2 separate regions of the Homo sapiens genome follow, and region 2 is linked to region 1. Evidence: fine-mapped expression QTL. Tissue or cell type: whole blood. Region 1 holds a variant in brackets; the other region holds the start of a gene. All regions are shown on one strand. Distances are between the middles of the regions.

What was found. PIP is the estimated chance that this variant, and not a neighbour inherited with it, causes the effect.
Region 2: DTX1 starts here. The variant in region 1 is fine-mapped to the expression of DTX1 in whole blood (TOPMed, PIP above 0.99).

Annotation. Positions count from the first base shown.
Region 1 is chr12:113,084,993-113,093,094 of GRCh38, reverse strand. All of the region lies in intron 3 of DTX1 (deltex E3 ubiquitin ligase 1), which reads right to left. Among named protein-coding and RNA genes, the nearest start is that of DTX1, 32 kb to the right of the region's middle. RefSeq lists a silencer at 6,182-6,271. The variant G/A (reference allele first, on the strand shown) is at 4,655.
Region 2 is chr12:113,051,773-113,059,874 of GRCh38, reverse strand. DTX1 (deltex E3 ubiquitin ligase 1) reads right to left here and starts at 3,145. Exons shown (of 10, transcript NM_004416.3): 1 at 2,931-3,145; 2 at 1,424-2,426. The coding sequence starts at 1,682. It also overlaps the pseudogene RPS15AP32. RefSeq lists an enhancer at 1,119-1,907.

The sequences.
Region 1 (8,102 bases):
TGCCTTCTGTCTCTGGCTCCTGGGCCACACACCCTGGCCTCTTTGTACCTCTCTGCCAACTGCAGTTACCTCCAGGAAACTCTCTTTCTACTCTGACATCCTATTATGGGGCGGGGGTGGCCAGGACCTCCGCCCAGGTTCCAATGGGATGCACCCTTAGACTTTAGTGCAGACACCTCCTTACCCTACAGCCGGCTCCTCCCTCGAGAGGGCGCTTTGGCTCTGAGGGCTCCTTTCGTTGGCCGCTGTGCCTGAAACCCAACTACTAGTGGTGTAGCTATTTTAACATCTCTCAAAGCTTGTTAGATGTAGCATTATTAATTTCCATAAAACGTTCCAGGAAAGAAGGATTCAGGAATCAAGTAAGTTAGGAACACGTCACTGTCTCCCTCTCTGAAATTCACAACATATCTGAGCATATTAAAGGCTCTGACAAGCCCTGCGTAAGAACATATCATTAACAATGATAAGTCCAGGTTTTCAAAAGCATTTGGTGATGAATTTTTTTTCTCTTCTGGAATATTTACTGATGTCAGTTTCTGTGACAAGGTACTATCCTCTCTTCAAATGAAGAGCCCCTAGGAAAAGGTATCCTGACTCTCCTCTTCCTCTGGCCCTCAAAAGAGCTTTGGCTTTTGGAGTCAGCCAGAGCTGCTTTCATATCTCAGTTCAACCACTAATGAGCTGGGCGACACACAGCACATCATCTCATCTCTTGTAAGGGGTGGTCTGTAAAATGGGGACAATATGGTACCTTTTTTTTTTTTTAATCTGCTGTGAGGATTCCGTGAAATTATATGTGTCAAGGGCCAAGCACAGTTCCTGGTACCTAACAGCTACTAAAAGCACAGCCATCGGTATCATCACTGTCAGCTGTGCAATCCTGGCCGAGTAATTTCACCTCTTTGCTTCCCAGGCACTAAGTCCTGGTGTAACTTCTCTCCATCTTAGAGAGGAAACCACAAAACTGCTGCAGTGACAACCTTGAACAAGTCACTTAACTTCTTGATCCTCAGTTACCTTATCTGTAAAACAGGCATATTAACACCTCACTTATAGTCGTTGGGAGGACTGAAGGAGAGCTTGCGGTGATGTGTACAGTGTGTCTGCCTGAGTCCTCCTGACTTCAGCACCTGTTTATGCAGGGGAACTGGTGTCTTGCTGTTGATGGGCATGGAACCCAGGCTGGATACGTTCTGATGAAGAGGGGTGTTCTGAAATCCAGGGGTCAGCCTGAAGGCCTTGGGGGATGTGCCAGGAGAGGGGGCAGGAAGGGCTGGGAGCAGTGACAGCTGGAGAAGGAGCTGCAGCAGCCCCCTTGGCTCTGGCCGTGCCTGTTCAGGTCACAGCCTGTCTAATGCTGTCTGGTCACCTGTCCTTGGCAGGCACAGTTGGCACCAGAAAGCATCTTCAAGCAAATGGTGCCCTTGGCAGGCTTGGGTACTGCTGCAGTGGGTGCAGACACACAGACATACACACCCAGGGCACACACCATCCACACAGATCCACAGATCCAAATATACACACATGCATGGAGAAGACCACACAGACTTATCATACTCCCCGGGACACATTACACACACATGTTTAAGTACACAGACACACAAACACACACAACCCAGGGAGTACATCACAGATACATGCACACACAGACACACAGATACCAGGGAGCCTCCCTCCCCATCCGTCTACTTGGGGAACATACCGCACACACTAGGGAATGCACACCATGAACATATACATGGATACACACAGGCACACTTCAGGGCACGCCCCCCACAAACATACATGGATTAAGATACACACACACTCACATATTCCAGGGAATGCCTCCCCACACCTACATACAGAGACTTGTGCACACACGGGGACACACACATACACACAGAAGCACACACAGCTCTCCCCTGGGAGGATACTCCATTGGACAAGAGTCGGTGGCTCATGTAGACCAGTACCGCACCTGCTACTGCCGCCCCTCTCCCCAGCTGCACAGAGCTGGGTAAGGTGGGCAGCAAACCCAGAGGAGCATGCGCTCAGCCCTACAAGCCCCCGGCGCGCTGCAGCCTGCAGAACGGCCTGCCGTCCACACGCGGACACACGATTCCGCACCGCCTGTGGGGAAGTACTCGTGCGTACTGATTCACATCATGCATGGGGGCGCAGGAGGACACGCTGACTCACTGCACACGAGGACACATGCGCACATGCTCTGACCCACACCTCCTGACACTGACACACAGACACTCAGCCTGGGAGGCCCACACCTGCACACATGCAGAGGCACAATCACACATGCACACAGGTGCAGCGCACACACACCCACTTGGTGGCTGCTCGGCTATACAGGATAGTATCACGTGGCCAGGACTCCCATCCCAGACCCCTCTGAGGGCTGTGGAGAGGTCTGGAGCAGACATCTGGATTGAGCCCCTTGAGGAGGCGCCGGTGTGATGGAAGTCAATGAACACAGCTCCCGAGGGAGGCAGGATGGGATGGCGGGTACCCTGGGTCCCCCAGGACCTGGTCAGTGGAGGTGGGAAGAAAGCACTGTGCCTCAGTTTCCCCACCTGTAATGGGGATAGAGTCCTGTGAAAGTTAAATGTGCTAAAACATGTAAAGCTCATCATTTGGCGCAGGGATGAGAGTGGAGGTGTCTTGATTTTCTTGTCGGGCACCCTGCGGGGGGGCCCCAGGAAGAGGGGCACTGAGTATTCATTTGACCCTTCTCAGGGTCTGTCATAATCCTCCAGGGCCTTCCTCAGGGGGGCAGCTGTCACCACTCTAACTTCCTCCCTCTCTATACTTTTATAGGAATGCATAGAGGCATTTCCCTCAAGCTTTTCCTCTTTCCTGCCCATTCTTCAAGCACCTCTAGTGCAGACAACCTGGTTAAGTCTAGGTCTGCCTCACCCCTCTTTCTTCCTTTCTGCCTCACAAGAAGAAAGTATCTCTTTTTTTCTCCAGGACTACCTATAAATTGGGTGGAAAGAAAAATATTGAGCATGCATACCACCACTGGTTGGTCTCCTGCCTGTGGCAGACATCACTAATCCATCACAGCACTCTCTCAAGCTTAGCAGAGTCCTCAGTACAGCTCTCCAAGCAGCCTCTATCAATCAGTATAGCCAGTTTGCTACCCCAGGTCTATATAATGCCCAGTCTGGCCCAGTGGGTAACCCTGCTCTTGCTGAGTGTTTGGTCTAGGAGTTAGACAGAGGGTACTCCAGGAAGGGAAGGATTTAGATCTCAGCTGCCCTAAAATTTCTGGAGCCCCTTAAATACCACATAGCCCTAGATTACAAAAGTCAGTCTTGCTCCTGGGAAGAGCACTGTGAGTGGGGTGTCACTGTGGGACTGTTATTTATTTACCCATCAGTGAGCCTGGGGGACAGTCCCGAGGTAGTCTCCAGCTTCTCTCTAACTGCAGGCCTCCTGCGAGAACCCAGGGTAGCAGAGTTCCCACGAACCCTGAGCGTGGGAGCCACCCGGCCCCCTTTTGATGTGGGACACGCTGTTTCCTCCGAGTCAGTGAGAACATCCTCCTGCCTGGACAAGCGACCGCTGCCTGCGGGCCTCCCGGAAGGGGAGCCAGCCTTCACCCCTAGCTCTGCCTTCTTGGGGGCCCAGGCTGGCACAGGACCTGAGGAGTCCCTCAGGCCCTCCCCGAAATCTACTCTGACCAGAAGGCAGGCATGGGCCCCACTGCCATGCAAGCCTCTCTGCCTTTCCCAGTCCCAAATCAGATCCCATCTGTCCTCTGCTCTCACTCCTCCTGCAGCTCCCACTTTGCTCACAGTTAACACCTGGCCTCCTGATCTGGCCCCCATCTACCCTCTGAACCTCATTTCCTATGTGTTCACCCCTCTCCCACTCCACTCCAGCCACCCTGGTCTCTCTGCTCTTTCTCAAGCATGCCAGGCACACTCCCACCCCAGGGCCTTTGCACTTGCTGACCCTTTCCCAAGGTGCTCTTCCCAGATATCCTCATGGCACACTCCCTCACTTAGCACAGGTCTCTGCTCAAATGTCAGCTTATCTGAGACACCTTCCCGACCACTTTATTTAGTTATTTATTTATAGACAAGATCTTGCTCTGTTGTCCTGGCTAGAGTGCAGTGGCTTAACCATTGCTTACTGCAGTCTTGAACTCCTGGGCTCAAGCGATCTTCCCACCTCAGCCTCTTGAGTAGCTGGGACTACTGGCACACACCACCACACCCAGCTTAAACAACAACAACAACAACAACAACAAAACTTTTGAGGAGACAGGGCCTCGCTGTGTTGCCCAGGCTGGTCTGGACCTGACCTCCTGGGCTCAAGTAGTCCTCCCTCCTCGACCTCCCAAAGTGCTGGGTTTACAGGCATAAGCCACTGTGCCTGGCCGCAACCACTTTATTTTTAAAAAGCCCATCTTTGTCCTTACCTTACTGAATTCTTTTTTCATAGCACTAATCACGACCTGACATTATAGTCTTTTTTTAAAATTATACTTTAAGTTCTAGGGTACATGTGCACAACGTGCAGGTTTGTTAAATATGTATACATGTGCCATGCTGGTGTGCTGCGCCCATTAACTCATCATTTACATTAGATATATCTCCTAATGTTATCCCTCTTTAAGCATGACCAGGCCCTGTATGATCTGGTCCAC[G/A]CCGCCTCTTCTGCCAGACAAAGTTAGAGCAGGAATGTCAAATATATGAGTGCATACCACTACTGTCCTCCTAGCACCCACAGCAGGCATTACTAATCAATTTCGGCATGCCTTACCGCTAAGCCAAGATGCAACTTCAGAATCCTCCTCAACACAGTGCTCCAGGAAGTCACTGCCCTGGAGCAGAGATGGCACATGAGATGAACTCTATTTGTCATTTATTTTGCAGATGATGGGACTGAAGCCCAGAGAAGGGAAATGACTTCACTAAGGTCACCCAGCTGGTTGGTGGTGCAGCTGGCACTGGGTCCTGGAGTTTCCGAGTCAGGGGCCAGGGCTGACCCTGCCAGGTTGGTCTGTGGAGCCATCTGGAGTTGAGCCAGCCTAGAGAGCCCTCTGTGCTCTACAGGTGGGCTGAAGTCTTTGACCTGGATCCTGGAGCTGGCTCAGGCCTGGGCAGGGTAGATCAGGGCTGTCTAACTGGATCCATTGGCCTGCTTTGGCCACCTCTCTCTGTCCCCTAGAGGGGTCCAGGATCCCGAAACACTGACAACTGACCCTCCCTTTAGGGCAGCCAAGTCCCCTCCCTCCTCCAAAGTCTGGTCTCCTTATCTCTCCCCTCCCACCCCCAGCAGGCCTAGACTTGTTACTTTCTCTGATGCTAGTTTCCAGGTCCCCCATTGGCCTTGGCCCCCTTCAGGATACCTCACACTTACCCAGCAGACCCCAAAGAGCCCCAGGAGCCTCAGGACTCAGTCATTTGGGGCCAAGTGGGTGAGGAGGGGGCAGAAGTGAGGATGTCACTTTATGGGGAGAAGGAAGTTGAACAGTGCTTTAGGGACCCCCCACCCTCTCCCTTTCTCCTTTCTAGGGGTGTGAGCCTGTCACCTTTCCCCACTTTCAGGGCTGTCTCTGCCTCATAGCTGCCTTCTCCCCCTCCTCCCCCCACAGTCCTGGGGAACACAGCCTGGGGCCAAGTCCCTGCCGCCACCCCCACTGCAGAGACTTGAAGGACATCGCTGCAAGCCCGGGGGACCAGGTGCCCATGGACTCCTCCTCAGCTGCTGTCTGGGGTCCTCACTTCCCCTTTCCTTACCCCAGCACCTCCGTCTGCCTAGACAAACCTCTGAGCTTCTCTGGGCTTCAGTGTCCCCTCTGTGAAATGGGACCCCTTACTTCTGTCTTCTAGACCCCTTACTTCCATGTTCTAGAGATTAAAGGATGTAAAAGTCCCCTCGGGAGACATTTTGAGGTGTGAGTGGTATTGGAGGCTCAGATTTATCTAGAGGTATGGGGGCTGCGGGGGTCACTCTTCAACCCTCCCGGTCCTCCAGCCTGCCCAGCTCTCTGCGGGGGAAGGAACGGGAGGAGATGGTTGGGGGCAGGGAGGACCGGTCAGGTAGGGGAGGGGAGGGCAGGACCGGCTGTTCCCACGGCCCGGGGCAGCCACGTGCAGACAGGAGTGTGTGTGGTTTGGTCTCCCAGGGAGCAGGGCAGGAAGTGCTTCAGGTGGGGGGCAGGGTGGGGGGAGTGTTTGGTTTGACCTTGCAGCAGCGGTGAGGCGGGGTGACAGTCACTGCACACCAGTGGCTAGCGGGGCAGAAAAGTGGGGGAGGGTGGGCAGCCAGGGGCCTGGTGGGGTCCTTGACTTCACAGTGTACCTGTCAGTACTTTAACATTTTCAAACCCCTGAAATGTAATACTTATGGAAGATCTGGAGAAAGAAAATGTGGATTTTTTAAAAATAAAAGCATAAAATCACTGCAAGAAATTTAAAGAAAAAAGGAAAAAAAAGGAAGGAAAACCCTAAAACACACCCACCACAACAAAGTCCCTTTGCCCTTGGCCTCCTGCTTCAGCCCCACTGCGGTCTATGCTCAGCATTCAGAGTGAACCTGTTAAAACAGTCCCACCCGTCTCTCCCAACACACAGCCCTGCTGGTTCCCTTCTCATGCAGAGCAAAAGCCAAAGTCCTAACCGCAACCTTCCAGACCCTGTGTGACCTGGCGCCTTTTCCTCTCTTACTTCTTTCCCACCGATTGCCCTGAGCCTCTCCAACCACACTGGCCTTCTCAGGCACCCCAGACCCACTCTGCCTCAGGGCCTTTGCACATGCTGTTCTGCTGTCTGGCATGTTGGAATGCTCTTCCCCCAGTTCTTTTGCTTTTTTTTTTTTTTCTTGATACAGGGTTTTGCTCTGCCACCCAGGCTGGAGTGCAGTGGCTCGATCTTGGCTCACTGCAACCTGGGCTCAAGGGATCCTCCCACCTCAGCCTCCTGTGTAGCTGGGACTACAGGCACGCACCACCGCACCCAGCTAATTTAAAAAAATTTTGTAAAGGTGGAGTCTCACTATGTTGTCCAGGCTGGTCTCAAATTCCTGGGCTCAAGTGATCCTCCCACCTTAGCCTCCCAAAGTGCTGGGATTACAGGTGTGAGCCACAGTGCCTGGACCATACCTTGCTTTTTAACCTCCTTCCACCTTTGCTCAAGAAGGTATTACCTTCTCCATGAGGCCTTTTCTTCTCATCACTCCCTACATCCTTTCTCTCCTATATTTTTCCTCTGTAGCAGTTACTACTTTCTACCATATTCTACAATTAATTTATTCTGTTTCGTGTTTGTCTCCCACTAGAATGTGAGCTCCAAGAGAGCAAGGACTGTCTGTTTAGTTCACTGCTGTGTCCCCAGGGCCCCAAACAGTGCCTGCCACACAGAAGTTATTCAATAAATATGAATGAATTAATTAAAAAACAGATGAACATATGCTATAAAGGAAAAAGAAACAGCAAACTACAGAAAAGATGGGAGACAAAGGGTTAATGCCCTTAATGCAGGAAGAACACTTGCAAATTAATAAGGAAGCAATAAACAGCTCCAGGGAAGGATAAGCCAAAGAAATACACAAGTAATTGGCAAAAGAAGGAACCACTCATGGCCAGTAAACAGGAAAAAGTTCTCAGGTTCAACTAAGAACCAAGGGTACGGAAACTTAAATGACGTCTCTTTAGGAATTATCAGCTTGGCAATGTTGTACAAATCTGATAGAGATGGGAGGGACAAGGGTGGATTTAAAATGGGAGCAGGCCTGGCTGGGCACTGTGGCTCACGCCTGTAATCCCAGCACTTTGGGAGGCTAAGGTGGGTGGATTGCTTGAGGTCAGGAGTTGGAGACCAACCTGGCAAACATGGTGAAACCCCACCTCTACAAAAAATATAAAAAATTAGCCGGGTTGGTGGCGTGCGCCTGTAGTCCCAGATACTCAGGAGGCTGAGGTACAAGTATTGCTTGAGCCTGGGAGGCGGAGGTTGCAGTGAGTGGAGATCTCGCCACTGCACTCCAGCCTGGACAACAAAGTGAGACTCCATCTAAAAAAAAAAAAAAAGGGTACGGGCCTGAGAAATCCAAGTGCTTTGACATCTGGCTTCATGATGGACTATGTGGGC
Region 2 (8,102 bases), 33 kb after region 1:
GGCTAGTGAGACTGAAGAACTGGATTTTACATTTTACTTAGTTTTAATTAATGTAAATTTAAGTAGCCACATGTGGTTGGTGGCTAACATATTGGTTGGCACAGCTCTAGAGGGAAAGCGAGCATCCTACCAGCCTGGGGTTATTACGTGTGGTTCTGTCATCCAGGGATTCATAGGAACTTCCCCAAACCCCATCAGCTGGTCCTTGGGGGGTCAAACATGCCAAGGATTTCTAGGCTGCTTCTGCACGGCAGGACCCCACCAGTCCCCACTGCCCATGGAGCTTGTCACAGATACCACCGGGCAATGACTCAGGGAGATCTCCCCAACGATGACAAATCTCCAGAACAAAAGAGAGTAGGCCTGAGAGTGGGACCTCATCGATTTTATCTCCATCATCAGCCATCACATTACCACCAACGCAACCATCAACATCACCATCATTACAACCACAACAGGATCACCAATACCACTAAGTAACAGCCACACACAGGGCTACCAGCCACACCACATGGCCACGAAGACTGCCACCAACATCATTCTCTCATTTTCTCCATCATCACCACCCCATCACACCACTTCCAGCACCACCACCAACACAACTATCAATGTCACCAACACCACTGAATCCCATGGTTAACGCTATCACTGACATCACCACCAACACTGCCACGTCACCATCATCCATCCCTCCATTGTCACCAAGACCCCACCACCATCAATACTATCACTGAGTCACCACCAACACAACCGCTAACACTGTCTCCTCCATCATTGCCACCTCACCCCACCATCAACACCACCAACGCCCCCCATCCCCAATTAATTACCACCAGCACGACTCCACCCCACAAACCAACACTTGGAGCCAGTATAGGATACCAGTTAAGAACTTTGGTTCTGGAACTCAACCGCCTGGGTTTAAATCCCAGCTCTGAGTTTAAATCACTCAGCTTCTGGGAGACTCGGTTTCTTCATCTATAAAATGGGACTCATAATAATACAACAATACACAGACTTACTGCCTGTGATTCTTGGGAAAAATCAAATGAGGAAGTGCATGTAAAGCCCTTATTCTACAATCCCATGCTACTGCTGTTCTAGGTTCTGTGCTCAGTGAGCACAATTTTATTTAATCCTCACTCAGCTGTGAGAGATATTGATCTACCCATTTTGCAGATGAGGAAACTGAGGCTCAGAGAGATGATGCAACTTGCTCAAGGCCCTACAGCTTGCTCAGAGGCTGCATTGGAATCCAAGTCTTAAACTGGACAAGGTTAGACTGCCCTGTTTTTCTGGAGGTGAGGCAGGGAGATGGGGAAGGGATTTGGCATCAGCAGATTTACTGGGATTTTCAGCATCCTACGCTGCAAGGTAGTGATGGCTCGGCGGGGCGGGTGGCATGGGGTGGGTGTCTGCTCACCTGTGTCCTGGCGAAACTGGTGCATGGACTGCAGGTCGATGATGTAGGGCACAAGCTGGGCGTCCACCTGCCCCAGGACCACGGAACCGCGAGCGTCCTCCTTCAGCACGTTCTCAATGTGGTGGCACACGGTGGCCGTGTAGGGCCGCCAGCGGCTGTGCTCATTCAGCCACTCCCACACCACCACCCGGGCCACGTTCTGCGGTGGGAAGCCCAGACCATTCACAGGCATCAGCCCACCGTGGCCTGGCCGTGACATGGCCGCCACTGCCTCAGGGGCCAGGTCCCCCACTATTGCAGGCCCAGCTCCTCCTGGGCCTGGCAGCAGGCGGCAACTTCCTCTCTCCCCAGGGGGACAGCAAGGACCGTCTGGCCTCCTTTCTAACTCTGGGTTCTCTCTGAGGCCTAGAGACCTCCGTTAAAGGAATGTGGGATGGCCATCCAGGCTGCAAAGACCCCTTCCCTGTAGAGCCTTCTCCGATAAAGGGTGCTGCCCTGGAAAGCAAGTGTCTCTCTTATGCCGGAGGAAACAGCTCTAAAGTCCTTGGCCCCCTCGGCTGGCTCAGGTAGGGAGTGAGGCAGCCGCCCCTGTTCGAGGTCCAGCCTCTTCCGTGTTGTCTCTTGGTCCCTCTTCCCCGCCAGACAGGGCCTGTCACCCAGGAGGCCTGGGCCACAGCCTGCTGCTCCTGCGGCTCTCAGCCAGCCCTTTGCACTCCCAACTGCGTCCCAGACCCTGCGCCCGGCTTCAGTGGGGCTTCTCGCCTCCCTCCGGTCTGGGCCCCCTTCTCCGACGGCTCCTGCCGAAGGGGGCGTCCCTGCCCCCTTGTTCCCTCTCCACGGTGTCCTGGAAGGCCTGGGTGGCCGCAGAACGCACGGGGGAGGGGTGCGGCGTGGACCCTCGGGCGGCGCGCCTGGACTGCGGCTCCGGAGCTGGGCTGGGGGACGAGGGGGACGAGGGGGGCGGGGGCCCGTGGGCACGCCCCACCCCACTCGTGCTCGCGACCTGCCAGGAGACAAGAGGGGAGAGGGCCCTTTAAGAGGAGAGCGCAGCACCCCCTCCCCCCTTCCCAGGAGAGCATTCGGCTGAGAACAATGGGGAACCGAAGGGGGACAGCAAGGGGGGCGTACGGGGTCGCCCCGCCCGCTTTCCCTTGGGGCAGGCCTGGAGGGAAGGCAGGGGCCGGGGGCGCGGTTTTCCGAGACTCTCCGCCTGGGGGGCGCCCTCCTTGGCTCCCGGAGCCTTCCCTTCCCCCGGGGCCCTCGCCCTGCCGGGGGGATGCCGGGTGCGCTGGGGTGCGCCGGGAAGCACGGGGATGCGCGGCGCTGCAGGCGCGGCCCAGGGCCCCTCGGGGGTCGCGTCGCGGAGGGGGCGAAGCCAGGAGCTGGATCGTCTCTGCCTCCCGCCCTGGGGGTAACAGCCCCGCTTCCCCAGCCCAGACGTCCCCGAGCCGCTCGCGGGCCCCCAGCGGGAGCCGGGGGTGGGGTCCCTAAGCACCCGCGTTCTCACCGCCTCTCTTCGTCTCCGGCTCCGGCTCCGGCTCGCGCTCCAGCACCGCCGCCTCCTGGGCTCCCCCCGGAGTGGGAGGGAGCCGCGGTCCCGCCTCCGCGCCCGTTCCCTCCCAGGCCCCTCGGCCGCCGCGCCGAGCTTTCCGCGCGTGGACAGACTGCCCGGCCGACGGACGGACGCAGGAGCCGGCTGGCGGCCGCCGGGATCTCGCGGGTGGGAGGAGGCCTCGGCCGTGCTCCGGGAGGGAGAGGGGAGGGGGCGGAGGAGGAGGAAGGGGAGGAGACAGATCTCGGCCCTGAGCGCCACCGGCGCTGACACGCGAGTCTCGGGGCGCCCCAAATCCTCGGCCAGGCCCTCCCGAGACCCCAAGGGGCCTTCTGACCCCAAGCAGAGCGTGAGGCAGGGAGTGGGATGTTTAGGAGTCACCGGCTTGAATCTTTGTCATCTTTATTTCCAGTCTCCCAGTCCAGGGCCTGGCACTGAATAGGTGCTCAATAAATGCTTGAATGAATGAATAAGATCCAGAGACTGTCTAAAGAAAGATCTTGAAGCATTCAGAGCTAGCCTCCTTTCCTCCTCTAACTATTCCTGGGGGTGGGAGGGTGCTGACAAGGCCTGATTCAGACTCAGTTGGAACCGTGGAATCTGAAGAGTACAGATGAGGAGACTGAAGCCAGAGAGAGTAAGAGCCAGGCCCAGGATCACAAAAGCTTAGAGCGATGCCCAGACACCAACCCCGATCTGAATCTCCTGCCAGTACCCAGTTCCCAGCCCTGAGCCCACTTCCCCCAAAGCACCCACCTGCTCCAGGTGAGAGGGGTGGGACCAGGGGAGGGGACCCTGGCCAGGAGGTGAGATCCTGGAGGAAGAGAAGGGCAGGCCCTCTGCCATGTCATTCACAGCCACCTGCAAACAACTGGTGCTCAATAAATGGTGGGTGAGCATTGGTTGGATGGAAGGGAAGGCTGGAAATGGCAGCGGCTCAAGTGTTAACGGGATGGCCAGTCCCCCTGTCCTCCAGCAAGCTGGATGCGGCTGAGACACACATTGGCTGGGAGGGGGGTGGACCACCTGGGGCCTGGGGGTGTTTAGATTGGGGAAGATGAAGGATGCGTCCGGGAACTCCAGCCTGGGTGGCTGACGGGGGTCAGTGGCCTGTTTGGGCGCCTGCCCAGAGCAGCCCACGCCTGCCTCCCCGGGGCAGATGGGGATACACTAGGCAGGGTCAGGGGCAGGCTGCTCAGGGGTGCTTTCCCAGAATCCAGCTCTGGCTCTCCGGCCAGCTGGAGGGACCTCCCCTCCCCAGGCCCCTGCTCTGACCTGCAGCCCAGTGTTGGATGGGCTTTTTCAGATTGGGTCAATGATTCTGCTTGCTTTCACCTGCTGTAGACTAAAGAGAGAGGCTTTGCATAGGGCAGGGCCAAGTCTGACGATACTCCCACAGGATCACTGAGTTCTGGGATTTTAGCCTAGGGTCCCTGGATGGCCTTCTGGGGTCCATGAAGTCCCCCTCTCCCATTACAGGCAAACTTGTGTGTCTAGGCATTGTGTGTCTTGTATGTCTGGGAAGAAGGGCTCTGGCTGTCAGCAGATTCTTCTCACAGGAGACTGTGACTGAACGGATTCAGAGCAGGTGCTCAACCAGCTTATGTTGTAGAAGGATCTGGGGATCCCACAGTGGAGAAGAGATTGGCTCAAGGTCGCATGGTGATTTAGCAGCAAATTGGAAAGAAGAACTCGTGTCTCTGGACTTCCTGTCGAATGCTATTTAAGGTCTGATTAAATGTCACCTCCTCCAGGAAGCCTTTCCTGAATTCACCCCATCTTCCTCTGTGTTCCTTTGCCCATACCTTGACATGACACCCTGTATCACAATTAGCCTCTTAAATGAAATCTGTCCCTGCTAGAGTGAGATAGCCATCATATTCATCTTGGTGTGGTGTGGCTGGTGCCCCATTACATAAGGGTGTCATTTACTGAGTGCCTATTATGTGCCAGGCACTTAAATAATACTTACTACTCTTCATAACTGCCCCACAAGGAAGGTAATGTTGTCCTCATTTTACACAAGGAAACAAAAAACCTCCTGAAGCTCAGAAAGGCTAAGTAGCTTACCCAAGTTCCCACAAGGAGTAAGTGGCAGAGCTAGGGTCTGAGTCCCAAATGCTTTTGCACCTCCCATAGCACCATGCTGCCTCTGTGTTTGTTGAGTGACTACTGGATGGCACCCAGCTGAGGATCTGGTGCAGAGTGGCCCTTAATGGCCCCTCTCAACTGGGTTTGGAACATCTGGGAATGCAACACTCTGCTCCCAGGGAACTTGGGGAGAAAAGAATTCCAAGGAGAGGGAAGGAATTTGGCCACCAAGGAGCCCACAATTCATGGGAGGGATGGCTCAGATACCAATGGGGAAGTCAATAGGACAAAAGCAAAAGCAATCAATCATGAACTGTTTTTTTTTTTTTGGTCCATTGAGGCATTTTATTCATATGAATTTATTACATCCCTAGAAAAACAATCCCAGGATTTTCCCTCCTGTGTATTTTTGTCTTGCTTCCTTGCAATCCCTGATACCAGCTGAGGTTGTCAGGACAATGAAACCAAAGGGGATAGGGGTACCATTTTTCTAGATCTTTGAGTTGCACATCAAACTGGGGCTTGTCACTGTACACTTGTTTAACCTGCCTGTGAGGTCCACAGTGATTTTTCTAGCTCTGTGATTATTGATGATTGCAAATTCACTGATGTAAACTAAACTTCATCATCACACTTAGAAACTAGATGATGATTTTGGAACACAACCTAAAACAACCTGGTATTTGCTTCTCTTCTCAGCATGTTGATGCTATTGAGAACACTGGCCAGGACGTTCACATGCACCATTATAGCAGCTCAGAAAGATGGCAGAAAGAGACCAACTCATTTTTTTTGTTCTGCCATCCACCATCCACTTATCCATCCACCCGTCTATCCATTCATCTATCCACCCATCCTCCATCCATCCATTCCACCCATCCATCCACCCACCCACCCACCCACCCACCCATCCATCCAGTCATTCACCCATCCACCCACTCATCCATCATCCATTCATCCATACACCCACCCACCCATCATCCATCCATCAATCCATCTATCCATTTATTCATCCATTCATCTATACATTCATGTATGAAATTTCCCACCTTCCTTGCTTCCCTTCCTCCATCTCTCCCTTCCTTCCTTCCTTCCTCTTTTTATTTTTATTTTTTTAAGATGGAATCTTGCTCTGTCACCAGGCTGGAGCACAGTGGCGCAATCTCAGCTCACTGAAACCTCTGACTCCCTGGTTCAAGTGATTCTCCTGCCTCAGCCTCCCAAGTAGCTGCAATTAGAGGCACGTGCCACCACGCCCAGCTAATTTTTATATTTTTAGTAGAGATGGGGTTTCACCATGTTGGCCAGGATGGTCTTGATCTCCTGACCTCATGATCCACCTGCCTTGGCCTCCCGAAGTGCTGGGATTACAGGCATGAGTCACCGCACCCGGCCCCTTCCTTCCTCTTATCCACTTATTCATCCATCCATCCATCCATCCATTCATCCAAAAAATACCAGATGCCCTCCTATGTGCCAGGCACTGGGCTACGTGCTGAGATAGAGAGCTGACACCAGCAGCATGGTCCCTGCCCTCCTGGGTCTCAGAGTCTAGTGAGGAAGTCGGACATGAATCAAGAATCACACAAAGTCTAATTCCAAACTTTTGCAAAGACTATGAGGGAAAAGTACAGGATATCGTGAGGACATCTAACAGGGGTCTTATCAGGTCTAAGGAATCAGGGAGGGCTTTTCAGAGGAGTTGATGTTTCAGCCACTCCCTGAAGGATTCATAGGTCTTAATGTGGCTGAGTGGGGTAGGAGGGGGAATGATTAAATCAGAGGAAACAGGGATGTGCAAAGGCCCAGAGGTGGGAAAGCGCTTGGTGTGTTAAAGCAACAGAAAGGAGACCAAGTAACCACTGAGAAAGAAGAGGGGTGAGCCTGGGGCCAGAAGAGGCAGAGCTACCATGCAGGGCCTTATAAGACCCAGTGTGGGTTTGCAATTTTATTCTAAGAGTCATGGGAATTACTAAAAATTTGATGTGATTTGATTTGTGTTGGAAAGAGCCTGGAATTAACTAGACTTTATTGAGTACCTACTGTATGTCCAGCCCTGGTCTAGGTACAGGAGAGTCTGGAAGGGGACACAAAACAAGATGAGTAACACTGAAGACCGTATTAGGGGCATGTGCATTAGGGTATGAGCCCTGGGAGACACATGCCACCCCTGTCCCCAGCCTGTGGAGCCGAGTGAGTTAGGCTTTTTTGAGCCCTTCTCTCCAGCCCTCTACATTCTTCTGTGCAGACCAGCTGTGACCTCCCCTTCAGCAGTTGAGAAAAAGTTTAAGTGGAAAACAGGAAACAGAGTGAGAAGGACTGTTTGGGTGTCTCTGGGGACTGAAATGGGGCCCCTGGAAGTCAGAGTGTTCCTTGGGCCTGTAGGACACTGGTGGGGTGCGAGTGGTGAAAGGTCTTTTGCTGCCTGCTGAGAATGGGCAGTAGAATTGGAGAAGCCTCAGAAGGGTGACATCCACAGCCGGCTTTGCTTAGCGAGGAGGGTCTGCAGGCCCAAGGTTAAGGTGGGCACTGCTCTCGTGGCCATGTGTGCAGGTCATGGTTCCTGGGAGCAGTGTCTCCCCATCACCAGGCAGAGGCTGGTTCCAGGTGAGCACAGATTCATCCCAGGGTCTTGCTCTGAAATTCACATACAGCCGGAGTTGAAAGCAGCTTGAGCATCTATGGGCGAGATGGTGAGATGAACGCCCTCCCCACCCCAGAGCACTGGGTCCCACCCTGGATTCATGTGAGAATCTCCTGCAGAGTGCATACAAATTACCCATGTCCAAGCCCCACCCTCAGAAACTGATGTAGTTGGCTGGGGGGTCCAGGTATTTGTAGGCTTTGGCCAATGGTTCTTTCCCTGGATTTAAGGGATTAAAACTGAGAGATGGTTGTCAACCTGTCTCTAGGTAGTTGGGCTAATCATATGTGATATTGCGAGCTTTTAGGGCCCATTTAGAGCCATCCATTTATTCATCTAATCAGATGATGTTTACTGAGCACCTGCTATGTGCCAGATACCATTCTAGGCAC